Regions from separate parts of the Homo sapiens genome. Here region 1 is linked to region 2. Evidence: fine-mapped expression QTL. Tissue or cell type: coronary artery. Region 2 holds a variant in brackets; the other region holds the start of a gene. All regions are shown on one strand. Distances are from middle to middle.

Region 1 (7,687 bases), 200 kb after region 2:
TTTGCCCTTCTTCGTTTACTATGTTGTGGCATGAACATAGATTACTGATTTGTGATTTTTTTGTTCCTCTAAATTTAGACATTACAGCTGTAACTTTCCCTCTGAGCACTTCCTTTGCTAAATCCCATGAGATTGTGGTCTATCACATCTTAGTTTTTGTTCACCTCAAAACAGTTTCTATTTGCCCTTTTGGTTTCTACTTTGACTCATTGGTTACTTAAATGTTTATTATTTAACTTCCACATATGTGTGAGTTTCTCAATTTTCTTTCCCTTATTGATTTTATCTTTATTCCATGATAGGTGACAGAGATATGCTGTGTTATTTCTATCTTGACTACCTACTATTTCTTGAACAGCAAGATTAATTTTGAGCTTCAGATTATGATTTGGGTTATTCTAGGAGACTGTAGTCCAATAGATAAAGGCAAAGAGATTAGGGCATTGAATTTTGTTCCTTTTATCCTTCAAAAGATGCACAAGGGGCTGCTGATCTCACTGCTGTAGCGGTGCTCCTTATGCATAGACCTGCCCTTGCTCAGCCACTGGCCTGAAAGAGGGGCAAAAGTCATAGAAGGAATGGCTTCCAGTTGAGAACCTTGATGTCTTTTACTCTTCTGGTTGGTAGAGAAAACTAGAATTGCTCCAGGTAAATTTTGCACATTCACAATGAATTTCTTTTTCTGTTTTTGTTTTGTTTTTCCTACAGCAGTCTTTCCATTCCTCATCCCAATTCTTGAAGTATTAAATATCTGTGTGTTTCCAAGAGAAGTTACAAATTTTTTAAGAAAATCTGTAAAAAGGATGAAAGAAAGTCGCCTCGAAGATACACAAAAGGTAAAATGTGGTGGTAGTTATAGGAGGATGTTTAGTTTTTCATAATTTTTTAGATAATATACATATGATCAGTGCAGTTACCTGTATGTTTTTAAAGAATGCTTTTAACATGAAGACTGCTCATGTTTAGAGCAAGAGAATTCATTTGGTAGAAATGCAGAAAGTGGGGTTTGGGGAAGGAGATATGAGAATGAGTCAGAGACAGCACATGAAATTTGATATCAGACACAACAATTAGTATGCCACGGCATAAATTTTATTGAGATAAAACTTTACCACTTTACTTCCCTTCAATAAATTGTCAGAGGATAAACATTACTGTTTGGAAATATATTTTACTGATATTATGCTTTCCCCAGATCATAAATTGGTAAAGACTCATTTCAAGTACAAACCTGTTATTTTACACATTCTCAAATGAAAGTCCCTATCAGGCCACCTGCTGAAGTGTAGCGTGTGTTAAATTTGAGCCATCTCACATGATAGCCAGATTTGTTTCAGGAAAACATCCTGCTTTCCAAGGATTTAGAAGGGTATGTTTTTCACTGGTGATTCAGGCAACATGCATCAGATTTCTGGTCTTCAAGGAGCCATATTCTCAGAAGGGAGATCAAGGACCACGCTTGTGATTTACTTCTGACTTCAGGAGCCACTTTCTGTCAGTGAAATTTCTCTTTTTGCTTCTAGCACCGAGTGGATTTCCTTCAGCTGATGATTGACTCTCAGAATTCAAAAGAAACTGAGTCCCACAAAGGTAACCAGAGTGTTTCTGAGGGCTACTTGTGGGGCACTCAGAGGGAAGGCCTTGTTCTGAAAATGTGCAGGAAGTATTCCAGGATGATGAGAATTTCTGCCACATAGCAGAACGACACATGTTTGAATGTTATAAGTGGTAGTTGGAGGCACTTTCTAGAGGCATGCAGGCATAGATAGCCATGTTCTAAGAGTAAAGGGCAACCCTAAGCAAACCTGGCATGCTAGAAAGTCAGTCTGCGGTCTGTGGATCACCTACATCAGATCAAATGCCAATTCTCAGCCTCCTTCAGATCCACTGAATAAAAATTTCTGCCTAGAAATTTATTAGGTTGCTGCAAAATTAATTGTGGGTTTTTCCATTACTTTTAATTGCAAAAAAATGCAATTAAAAGTAATGGCAAAAACCACAATAACTTTTGCAGCTACCTAATACATCTAACATCCAATCAGGAGCCACGCTGTTCCAAAAGGGGTGATTTTAACTGGCAGTACTTGTTGAAAGTGTGTTCACCAGGTTAATCTACTGCAAAGTTATTTTCCACTTTGGAATGGATTAGTAACTTGTGGGGAAAACCTCTGAGACCGTGTAAATATCCTCTTTGTCTTCAATGTTTCACCTACGAGTTTTACAACCCATGTATGTTTTTTACTGAAGTCACTATTACTATGACAGTGGCAAAATGATGACCATGGTCAATTACAAGCCACCAAGACTTGGCAACCATCTCACAAAATTCCTGAATATTTAACTATTGGTTCTAGAGAGCAGGACTGGGCTTACTCCAGCATACTGCTTTAAATATATCCATGTCTACATCCACTTTTGTCTGTATGTCTATGTATCTATCTATGTATCTATCTAGCTATGTATCTATCTATCTATCTATCATCTATCTATCTATCATCTATCCATCTATCATCTATCATTTATCCATCTATCATCTATCTACTTATATATTATCTATCTATCATCTAACTATTCATCTATCTATCCCAATATAACTTGCTGTGATAAAGGAAATAGTCTATTGTTTTACTGTTTCATATAGAAATCACTAGACACATATGGCTATTGAGCACTGGATATGTGGCTAGTGCCATTGAAGATCAATTTTAAATGGTATTTCAGTTTAATTTAATAAAATTTGATTTTAAATAGCCACTAGTGGGTAGTGGCTACCATATTGGACAGCAGAGCTCTAAACTTTGAGATTATAGTTCAATTTCACATCAGTATCATCAGGTTCATGATAACTGAATACTATGATTAGGTAGTTGAATTTACTTATAACTGCATCACAGAAGTCTTCACTGGTAAATCACAGCTCTGTCGACCTTTCTCACACTCCTTTCATATTGGTTTTGGTTGTGAATTACATGGTTGGAGCAGGCATTATATTTATTTCTATGTTCCAGGTCTCTAAAGGTCCTAATCCAGTCCTGATCAAACAGACCAGTGATGGACCATCCTGAGCTTCTCTCAGGAGAAAAATCAAGAGGGGCCCAACTTGTAATCATAGGAGCTTATGCTATTTTAATGCCATCCATCAGACTACAATCAATTACCACTCATCTAGCTTTTTGTCCATCTCTCATTCTTGTACATCCTGAGATAGTCAATTCTGAGAACTGTAGCCTAGATCTATCACCTGATGCCTCTCAAAGATATAATCCGTGCTTCTCAAGCTAGGCTATGCACACAAATCACTGCATCTTGTGAAAGTTCAGATTTTGAATCAGTAGTTCAAGGGTGGGGTTTGAGATTTTGCATTTCTAATGAGCTCTCAGATGCTTCTGACCCATGGACCACACTTTGAATACCAAGAAGTGGTCTGTAGACCAATATTGGTCCCTTAAGTTCCCTCAAACATATCTTCGGGAAACGTCCTTTGATTTTCCCTACATTTAACCATTAGTGTTGCAAATTCTCTCAAAGTTTGTCAAGATATATTGTAGCTAAAATAAATTACATTTTTCTTGGGGGAGAGTACTACCTCATATTAACTTACAATAAAGTACTTTTAGGATCATTCAAGGAACACACCCATAACACTGAGTATGTTATGCGGAAATGCTCTCTCTGGAAATTACACAGCTGTGCAGGTGGCGGGGGTGGCATGAGGAGGAGTGGATGGCCCACATTCTCGAAGACCTTGGGGAAAACTGGATTAAAATGATTTGCCTTATTCTGGTTCTGTAAGATACACATCAGAATGAAACCACCCCCAGTGTACCTCTGAATTGCTTTTCTATTCTTTTCCCTTAGGGATTTGAGGGCTTCACTTAGATTTCTCTTCATCTAAACTGTGATGCCCTACATTGATCTGATTTACCTAAAATGTCTTTCCTCTCCTTTCAGCTCTGTCCGATCTGGAGCTCGTGGCCCAATCAATTATCTTTATTTTTGCTGGCTATGAAACCACGAGCAGTGTTCTCTCCTTCATTATGTATGAACTGGCCACTCACCCTGATGTCCAGCAGAAACTGCAGGAGGAAATTGATGCAGTTTTACCCAATAAGGTGAGTGGATGGTACATGGAGAAGGAGGGAGGAGGTGAAACCTTAGCAAAAATGCCTCCTCACCACTTCCCAGGAGAATTTTTATAAAAAGCATAATCACTGATTCTTTCACTGACTCTATGTAGGAAGGCTCTGAAAAGAAAAAGAAAGAAACATAGCAAATGGTTGCTACTGGCAGAAGCGTAAGATCTTTGTAAAACGTGCTGGCTCTGGTTCATCTGCTTTCTATTACTACAATAATGCTAAGTAAAAAACCTCCAAAAACCTCAGTGGCATCTAACAATAAGCATTTGTTGCTCACACTCATTTCACATTGGTTTTGGTTGTGAATTACATGTTTGCAGCAGGCACCATAGTGGTGTGTGATGTCCCCTTAGCTGTATCCACATATGGACACAGGAATTTGCTCTTTTTATCTCTTTTTATTTTCTTGGTTACAGACATGTGACTTTTTTTTTTGAAAGGTAACAATCACTTTCTCATATGTTATTTGATGCTAGTGGTCATAGCCTATTAGTCACATTTGTTTCAATGAGAAAGAAAAACCAGTACACGGTTATGCTAAGGATTTCAGTCCCTGGGGTGAGAGCCGTCTCGAATGTCTCCCCACTTCATAACTCCTCCACACATCATAGTTGGATAGTGAGCTCTGCTGATATTGGCAGGACTTGCTCTGGTCTGGCTGTAGTCTGACGGAGCCTGGCCCTGGGTGTGCTGTGCAGGCTGACTCAGCTCTCCCCACACCTATCTCATGTTCCAGTCAGGCAGTAACTGGTGAAGAAGCCAAGCTAGGAACCAGGATATCTGGCTCCTGAGCTAAAGTCTTAAAACACTATCATATTGCCTTCCAAATATAACACCAAATACTAGGTGCATATCACCCACACTGTTTTCAGACCTCTGCCAAAATTGGGATTCTTTGTGGTATGAAGAGACACGGCTTTGGGGCTGGCCCGGCTGTGGCAGTGAGGTGAACACAAAGGGATGTTCTTCAGAGATTACAGTCCAGCCCTGAAGCAACAACTAGGAGACTGTTTCAGCAAGTGAGGACAGGGCTGTGTGGGGTTCTATCCTCTTTATAACTTCCACTAGCACTGAAATCGTGTTCTCTGGTTACATCCAACCAGAACCTTCTTTGTCATTTTTGGGATAGAAAGGGACTAGTTTATCCTCAAATTATTTATGGAGATTTTATATAATATAGTGTTTCTCTCCACATTTTCTGTATATAACAAAAGTCCTCCTTTTAGTGTGTGTATACACATATATATACACATATATATGTGTGTGTGTATGTGTGTGTGTATATATATATAGACATATATACACGGTTATGCTAAGGATTTCAGTCCCTGGGGTGAGAGCCTTCCCGAATGCTTCCCACCTTCATAACTCCTCCACACATCTCAGTGGGCCACTGAGCACAGCAATGGGCATGACAGTTATTAAAACACTTTATAAATGCTTCGATCCTTTACCAGTATGAGTTAGTCTCTGGAGCTCCTAATACTTCATTAGTACTGCATGGACTGAGTTAAAAGTTAATTCAAAATCTCAATTTATCCAAATCTGTTTCGTTCTTTCCAGGCACCACCCACCTATGATACTGTGCTACAGATGGAGTATCTTGACATGGTGGTGAATGAAACGCTCAGATTATTCCCAATTGCTATGAGACTTGAGAGGGTCTGCAAAAAAGATGTTGAGATCAATGGGATGTTCATTCCCAAAGGGGTGGTGGTGATGATTCCAAGCTATGCTCTTCACCGTGACCCAAAGTACTGGACAGAGCCTGAGAAGTTCCTCCCTGAAAGGTACAAGGCCCCTGGGAAGGGAGCCCTCCCTGAACCAGCCTGGTTCAAGCATATTCTGCCTCTCTTAATCTACAGGACAGTCATGTGGTTGTATAATTATTTGCTTGTATTTTTATATTTAGAGATTTTTTTAATCATCAAATTGATTATTGTCACACTTTACAAACCATAGACTAGAAAAAAGAAAACTACAGTCATCCACAATTCCAACAACTTACGATGAAGGTCATCAGTTATGTCCTTATGGGTCATCAGTGTCCAAAATGTAAGGACTCTTTTAAAAACACATGATCACAATGCTATTATTATGTCCCCCAAATGAATATTTTTTTCATAAATATAATCAAATATTTAGGAATAACATTTTAATAAAAAACATGCATCTAATCTTCAAAGAATTTTATAGCTTACTGGAACAGATAGACAAAGAAAGCAGTGATGATACTGCATTACATCGGTACAGTAGCATCATATGCCTGTGTAAATTATCTGACTTCAACTATTCTATGGAGGTGTGGGGGAGAAAGAGGGAGAGATGGAGAGAAGAAGAAGGAGGAGAAGGAGGGAGAAGACAAGGTAAGGAGGAGAAGGAGGAGAATTAGAAAAACAAGAGAGGAGATGAGAAGGAAAGTGCAAAATAACAATTTTGAAATAGTACAAGACAATTTCCCCTTCTCCTTCCTCATGACCAATGTAAGTGTGACTTGAGGCAGGAACCTACTTTTCCATCAGTCAGTCCCATCACTTATGTGCCTTTTATAGTGTGGACACATCACCACCCTGAATATAATTTCAGTGTTTAGAAATAAGTATTCTTTGCAACACTATTTATCTCATCTCAACAAGACTGAAAGCTCCTATAGTGTCAGGAGAGTAGAAAGGATCTGTAGCTTACAATTCTCATAGCAAAATAAGCATAGCAGGATTTCAATGACCAGCCCACAAAAGTATCCTGTGTACTACTAGTTGAGGGGTGGCCCCTAAGTAAGAAACCCTAACATGTAACTCTTAGGGGTATTATGTCATTAACTTTTTAAAAATCTACCAACGTGGAACCAGATTCAGCAAGAAGAACAAGGACAACATAGATCCTTACATATACACACCCTTTGGAAGTGGACCCAGAAACTGCATTGGCATGAGGTTTGCTCTCATGAACATGAAACTTGCTCTAATCAGAGTCCTTCAGAACTTCTCCTTCAAACCTTGTAAAGAAACACAGGTTAGTCAATTTTCTATAAAAATAATGTTGTATTAATAATTCTTTTAACTGAGTGGTCTGTATTTTTTAAAAAGAATATGCTTGTTTAATCTTTTACTAATTTGTTCTCTGGGCCAAAGAATCAATTAGGCCCATCTGTGATCTTTAAGGGTGCTTCAGTTCTGGAGTTCAAAAGCTGTAGCATCAAAAACATCATGTAAAGCCCATGTAGATTAGCATGGCATAATTATCTGCAGTCTCCTTGAACTTGAGCAAAGTTTACATTCAGTTTCAAGTCGATTGGAAAGATGGGGAAGTATTTTGCACAGTCATGAAGTGTAATGATTACCTTGTTGTGACTTTTGAATGCTGCTCTTCCCAACCAGAACTTGGAGAAGCTTTCTCATGAGAGTGGCTCCCAACCACTAGCTGTACATTGGAATCACCAGGGAGCTTTAAAAATTCATGATGTCTGGGATATCACAGAAATTCTAAACTAATTTGCCCAGAGTGTGGCTTTAAAAGCTTCCCCATTGCTTCTCATGTGAAGCCAAGGTTGA
Region 2 (7,687 bases):
AACCACAGAAATCACAGTCAATGGATCCACAAGGCCTGAGGAGCAGTGTGGGGGGACAGACAGGAGGTGGATTTGGAGACCGAAGACTGGGATGCCTGTCTTGAGTAGACTTGGACCCAAAAAATCATCTCACCTTGAGCCCACCCCCACCCCATTGTCTAATCTGTAGAAGCTAATAAATAATCATCCCTCCTTGCCTAGCATAACAGAGAATCCTTTTTTTAACGGTGATGCGCTGTAGAAATGTGACTAGATTTTCTCATTGGTTCTGCCCTCAAGCACTGAATTCATCTGAAACTCTTGGTTTCCCCTGGAGGCCATGGTTCCTGGGCACCTTGACCTGGGCAATCCCAAGTGTGGCCTGAACCCCCTTTCCCTTGGGGATTGTTCAGGTGTCCCTAGACGCCTTGTGGTATTGTACCTAATACCCATGAAGGGAGAGGATGATATTACTTGCCAGTGTACACCCCCCTGTGATATTGTTCATAATGTCCAGAGTGAAGAAAGATGATATTACTCCCAATATCACAGAAGGTGTACACCCCCCCTTGATATTGTTCCTAATACCCAGTTGGGGAGGGGAGAATATCTCTCCCAATATACAAGGGGTGTTTAAACTCTCTGTGATATTGTTCCTAATATTCAGGGGGGACAAGGATGATATTACCCAAATATTGCAGGGGTTGTACACCCCCCCTTTGATATTGTTCCTAATATCCAGGGGTGGAGAGGATATTACTCCCAATATTGCAGGGGTCTACATCCTCCCCCCGTGACATTGTTCTTAATAACCAAAAGGTGAGAAGCTGACATTACTCCCAATACCACAGGGGGTGTACACCCCCTATGAGATATTGTTCTTAATATCCAGGAGGGGAGAAAATGATATTACTCTCAATAGCGCAGGGAATTTACATCCCCCGTCGTAATCTTGTTCTTAATATTCAGGAAGGGAGAGGATGATACGACTCCCAGTATCGCAGGGGGTGTGCACCCCCCCGTGATTTTTTTGCTAATATCCAGGGTGGGAGTGGATAATACGCAGGAAGTGTACAGGTCTCTGTGATATTTTTCCTAATATCCAGGGGGGAGAGGAAGATATTACTTTTAATAGTGTACGGGGGGTGTACACCCCTCTGTGATAGTGTTCCTAACATCTTGGGAGGGAGAGGATGATATTACTCCCAATATCGCAGGGGGTGAAAACTTTTTTTTGATATTTTTCCTAATATCCAGGGGTGGAGACGATGAAATTACTCCCAATATCACAGAAGGTGTACACTCCTTTTGTCATATTGTTCCTGATATCCAGGGTAGGAGAGGATGATATTACTTCTAATATCGCAGGAAGTGCATACGCCCTTGTGATATTGTTCCTAACATCCAAAGGAAGAGAGAATAGTATTACTTCCAATATCGCAGGGGGTGTACAGCCCCCCTTGTGATATTGTTCCTAATATCCAAGATGGAGAAATTTCTATTATTCTCAATATCACAAAGGATGTACACCACCACCGTAATATTGTTTGTAATTTCCAGGGAGGGGAGAGGATAATATTACTCCCAATATCCCAAGGGTTGTACACCCCTCTGTGATATTTTTCATAATATTTAGGGGTGAAGAGGATGATATAAATGCAAATATCACAGGGGGTGGTCACTGTCTTGTGATATTGTTCGAAATATCCAAGAGGGGAGAGGATGAAATTACTCCCAATATCTCAGCGGGGGTACACCCCTCTGTGACATTCCTTGTAGTATTCAGGGGAAGAGAGGATAATATTACTCCCAATGTCGCTTTGGGTATTCATTCCCCTGTGATATTGTTTGTAATATCCAGGAAAGGAGACGATGACATTACTTTTAAAATCTAAGGGGTGTACACACCTCTGTGATATGGTTCATAATATCCAGGGGAAGAGAGGATAATATTACTCCCAATATCACAGGGGGTGTACACCCGCCTGTAATATTGTTCGTAATATTCAGGGTGGAAGAGGATGAAATTACTCCCAATATCGCAGTGGGTGTGTACCCCACTGTGATATTGTTTGTAGTATCCAGTCAAGGGGAGGATGATATTACTCCCAATACCGCAGGAGATGTACACCACTCTGTGATATTGTTCGCAGTATCCAGAGGGGGAGTGGGTAATATTATTCCCAATATCGCAGTAGGTGTACACTTCCCTGTGATATTGTCTGTAATATCCAGGGAAAAAAGAATGATATTACTCCCAAAATTTCAGGGAATGTACACCCTCCTGTGATATTGTGCATAATATGCAAGGGGGAAGAGGATGATATTACAGCAAATATCACAGGGGGTGTACAAGCCCCTGTGTTATAGTTTGTAATATCCAGAAGGGGAGAGGATAATATTACTTCCAAATCACAGGGGGTGTACACCCCCCTGTGATATTGTCCGTAATATCCAGGGGGGAGAGGATGATATTATTCCGAATATCGCAGGGGTGTACACTCTGCTGTGGTATTGTTCGCAATATCCGGGGAGGAGGATGATATCAATCCCAAGATGGTAAACACCCTGTGTGTACACCACCCTGTGATATTGTCCATAATATCCGGGGAAGGGGGGAGAAAATAATATTACTCCCAGTATCGCAGGGAATGTACACTCCCCTGTGATATTGTTTGTAATATGCGGGGGGGAGGGGAGAATATGATACTACTTCCAATATCGCAGGGGGTGTAAACCCCCCTGTAATATTGTTCGTAATATTCTGGGAGGGGAGAGGATGATATTACTCTCAATATTGCAGGGGGTATACACCACCCTCTGTGATATTGTTCTTAATATCCAGAGGAGGAGAGGATGATATTATTCCCAATATCACAGGGAGTGTACTCTCCCTTTGGGATATTGTTCCTAATATCCATGGGAAGAGAGGATAATATTACTCCCAATATCGCAGGGAATGTATATCCCCCCCTTTGATATAGTTTCTAATATCCAATTTGGGAGAGGATATTAATCCTAATATCGCATGGGGTGTACACGCTCCCTGTGATATTGTTCCTAATGTTCAGGTTGGGAGAGGATGAGGTTGTACACCGCCTGAGATATTGGGAGTAGTGTCATCCTCTCTTCCCGTTGATATTAGGAAGAATTTCACAGGAGGGGTGTACATCTTCTGTGCTTTTGGGAGTAATATCATCTTCTCCTTCCCTGGGTATTAGGAGCAATATCTCGGGGGGGTGTACATACTCTGCAATATTGGGAGTCATATCGTGTTCTCTCACCCTGGACAGTAGGAACAATATCACAGGAGGGGTGTACACCCCCTGCGATATTAAGAGTAGTATCATTTTCAGGCCGGGTGCGGTGGCTCACGTCTGTAATCCCTGCACTTTTGGAGGCAGAGGCGGGAGGATCACGAGGTCAGGAGATTGAGACCATTCTGGTAAACACGGTGAAACCCCGGCTCTACTAAAAATATAAAAAATTAGCTGGGCGAGGGGGTGGGCGCCTGTAGTCCCAGCTACTCGGGAGGCTGAGGCAGGAAAATGGTGTGAACCAGGGGGGCGGAGCCTGCAGTGAGCCGAGATCGCACCACTGCACTCCAGCTGGGGCGACAGCGAGACTCCGTCTCAAAAAAAAAAAAAAAAGTAGTATCATTTTCCCTTCCTGGATATTAGAAACAATATCACATTTGGGGTGTAAAACCCCTGCTATATTGGAAGTAATATCATCCTCTCTTTTCATGGTTATTAGGAACAATATCACAGGGGTGTATACACCTTCTGCGATATTGGGAGTAATATCATCCTTTCCCCACCTGGATGTTAGGAAGAATATTGCAGGCGGAGGGTACACCCCCTGCGATATTGCCAGTAATATCATCTTATTCCTTCCTGAATATTAAAAATAATATCTCTGGGGGGGTGTACACCCCCTTCAATATTGGGGGTAATATCATTCTCTTTCCCCCGGGATATTGGAAAGAATATCACGGGGTGGTGGTGTACACCCCCTGCGATATTGGTAGTAGTATCAACCTCTCACCCCTAAATATTAGGAACAACATCACAAAGGGGGTGTACACCCCCTGAGTTATTGGGAGTAATGTCATTGTCTATCCCCTGGATATTAGGAAAATTAACAC[A/G]GGAGGTGTGTACACCTCCTGCAATATTGGGAGTAATATCAACCTTTCCCCACCAGGATATTAGGAACAATATCATGTGGGGGTGTACACCTCTTTCCATATTGAAAGTAATATCATCCTCTTTTTTCCTGGATATTAGAAACAATATCACAGGAGGTTGTACACCTCCTGCGATATTGAGAGTAATATCATCCTCTCTCCTTCTGGATATTAAAAACAATATCACAGGCAGGGTGTACACCCCCTGCAATATTGGGAGTAATATCATCCTCTCTCCACTTGGATATTAAGAACAATGTCACAGGGGGTATGTACCCCCCCTGCGATATTGAAAGTAATATCATCTTCTCTTTACCTAAATATTAGGAACAATGTCACAGGGAGGGTGTATACCCCCTGCGATATTGACCATAATATCATGCTCTTTCTTCTTGGATATTAGGACCAATATCACAAGGGGGGTGTACACCCTCTGCAATATTGGGAGTACTATTATCCTCTCCCCACCTGGATATTAGGAACAATATCACAGAGAAGGTGTACACCCTCTTCGATATTGGGTGTAATATCATCCTCTCCCTACTTGGAACAATATCACGGCATTGGGGGGAGGCTGTACACTTTCTGCGGTATTGACAGTCACATCATCCTCTCACCCCCTGGATATTAGGAACAATGTCACAGAAGGTGTGTACACGCCCTACGATATTGGTAGTAATATCCTCTCTCCACCTGGATATTAAAAACAATGTCACAGGGGGTATGTACACCCCCTGCGATATTGGGGGTAAAGCAACCTTTCCTTCTTTGGATATTACATAAAATATCACAGAAAGGGTGTACACCTCCCGCGATATTGGGAGTAATATCATCCTCTCCCCACTTGGATATTAGAAACAACATGATGGGGGTTGTACACTTCCTCCGATATTGGGAATAATATAATCCTCTTTTGCCCTCGATATTAGGAAAAATATTACATTAAGGGTGTACACCCCCTTCGATATTGGGAGTAATATTATCCTCTACCCCCCCGATATTAGGAACAATATTACCAGAGAAGTGTACACCCCCTGAGACATTGGGATAATATCCTCTCCCCGCCTGGATTTTAGGAACAATATCACAGTGGGGGTGTATACCCCCTGCGATATTAAGAGTAATATTATCACAGGGAGGTGTACACTTTTTGAGATATTGGGAGTAACATCATCCTCTCGCCCCCGAATATTAGAAACAATATTACGGAGTGGGGATACACTCCCTGCGACATTGGGAGAAATATCATCCTCTTCCCTCTGAATATTAGGAACAAAATCACAGAGGGTTGTATATTCCTTGCGATATTGGCAGTAATATCCTCTCTGCCCCTGGATATTAGGAACAATATCACAGAAGGGGTGTATCCCCCTTCGACATTGGGAGTAATATCATCCTCTCTGCCGCTGGATATTAAAAACAATATTAAAGGGGGGTGTAAAACCCCTGCGATATTAAGGTAATATCATCCTCTCCCCCCCCGGATATTAGGAACAATATCACAGGGGGAGTGTACACCCCCTGCTATATTGAGAGAAATATCATACTCTCCTCAAATGGATATTAGGAGTAATATCACAGGGATGGGGTGTACACGTTCTGCTATATTGGGAGTAATATCATCCTCTCCCTACCTGGATATTAAATACAATATCACAGGGGGTGTTACCCCCCCTGCAATATTGGGAGTAATATCATCCTCTCCCATTCTGAATATTAGGAACAATATCACAGTGGGGGTTGTACACCCCCTGTGATATTGGCAGTAATGTCATTCTCTCCCGCTTTGAATATTAGGAACAGCATCACGGAGGTTGCACACAACCTGCAATATTGGGAGTAATGTCATTTTCTCTTCCACCTGGACATAAGAACAAATATTACAGGGAGGAATACACCTTCTGCGATATTGGAGCAATATCATCCTCATTTCCCCTGGATATTAGGAAAGATATTACAGTGGGGGGTGGACACCCCTGCGACATTGGGAGTAATATTATCCTCTGCCCCGTTGGATATTAGAAAAAACATCACAAAGGAAGTGTACACCCCCTGCTATATTGGGAGTAATATCATCCTCTCCCCCCTGGATATTAGAAACAATATCAAGGGGGAGAGTACACCACCTTCGATATTGGGAGTAATATCATCCTTTGCCCTTCTCGATATTAGGAACAATATCGCAGTGTGGTGTACACTGCCTGCGATATTGGAAGTAGTATCATACTCTTCCTCCCTCGATATTATGAACAACATCACAGGGTTGTGTACCCCCCTGCAATATTGGGTTTAATATTGTCCTCTCTTTCCCTAGATATTACTAACAATATTACCAGGGAGTGTACACACAGGGTGTTTAAAATATTAAACTTGATGTCATCCTCTCCCCCCCGGATATGGCAAGCAATATCACATGGAGGTGTACACCCCCTGTGATATTCGAAGTAATATAATCCTCTCCCTCCCTGGATATTACAAAAAATATCACAGCGGAATGTACACCCCCTGCGATATGGGGAGTAATATCTTCCATTTCCTCCATAAATATTATGGACAATATCACAGGGGCATGTGAACCACCCGTGATGTGGGAAATAATGTCATCCTCTCCCCTTCTGAATATTACAAACAATATTACAGGGGGGTGTACACACCTTGTGATATAGGAAATAATATTATTTTCTCCCCCTCTGGATATTACAAACAATATCACGGAGAGGTAATATCATCCTCTCCCCCACTGGATATTATGAACAATAGCACAAGGGGATGTACACCCCCTGTGATATGGGGAGTAATATCATGCCTTCCCCCCTGCATATTAGGAACAATATAATAGGGGGGTGTACATCTTCTGCGATATGGGGAGTAATATCTTCCTCTCCCTCCCTAAGTATTACAAACAATATCACAGGGGGATGTCCACTCCCTGTGATATGGGAAGTAATGTCATCCTCTCCCCTTCTAAATATTACAAACAATATTACAGGGGGGTGTACACACCTTGCGATATATGAAATAATATTATTTTCTCCCCCTCTGGATACTATGAACAATATGAAAGTGGGATGTATACCCCCTGCGATATGGGGAGTAATATCATTCTCTCCCCTCCTGGATATTACGAACAATATTACAATCGGGTGTACACCCTCTACGATATGAAGAGCAGTAATCTCCTCTCCCCCTTGGATATTAGGAACAATATTACAGGGGATGTACACCCCCTGCGATATTGGGAGTAATATCATCCCCTCCCCTCCTGGATATTACGAACAATATCACAGACGGTGTACACACAGGGTGTTTACCATATTGGGAGTAATATCATCTCCCTTCCAGGAGATTACGAACAAAATCACAACGGGGTGTTTACCCCCTGTGATATTGGGAGTAATATTATCCTCTTCCCTCCTGGATATTATGAACAATATTACAGAAGGGTGTACACCCTCTGCGATATTGGGAGTAACATCACTCTCTCCCTTTCTGAATATAATGAACAATATCACAGGGAAGTAA

Which allele goes with the higher level. Alleles are on the strand shown, and positions count from the first base shown. SD is a standard deviation of normalised expression in the study named.
As copies of G replace A in region 2, the expression in coronary artery of the gene that starts at base 4,035 in region 1 goes up (large effect, 1.1 SD a copy in GTEx).

Evidence for each region. PIP is the estimated chance that this variant, and not a neighbour inherited with it, causes the effect.
Region 1: CYP3A4-AS1 starts here. The variant in region 2 is fine-mapped to the expression of CYP3A4-AS1 in coronary artery (GTEx, PIP 0.96).

The regions. Positions count from the first base shown.
Region 1 is chr7:99,760,280-99,767,966 of GRCh38, reverse strand. CYP3A4-AS1 (CYP3A4 antisense RNA 1) reads right to left here and starts at 4,035. Exons shown (of 1, transcript NR_198962.1): 1 at 1,071-4,035. It overlaps CYP3A4 (cytochrome P450 family 3 subfamily A member 4), which reads left to right. Exons shown (of 13, transcript NM_017460.6): 8 at 709-836; 9 at 1,524-1,590; 10 at 3,952-4,112; 11 at 5,700-5,926; 12 at 6,986-7,148. RefSeq lists an enhancer at 4,056-4,336.
Region 2 is chr7:99,959,246-99,966,932 of GRCh38, reverse strand. It overlaps AZGP1 (alpha-2-glycoprotein 1, zinc-binding), which reads left to right. Exons shown (of 4, transcript NM_001185.4): 4 at 1-203. Among named protein-coding and RNA genes, the nearest start is that of AZGP1, 13 kb to the left of the region's middle. The variant A/G (reference allele first, on the strand shown) is at 4,127.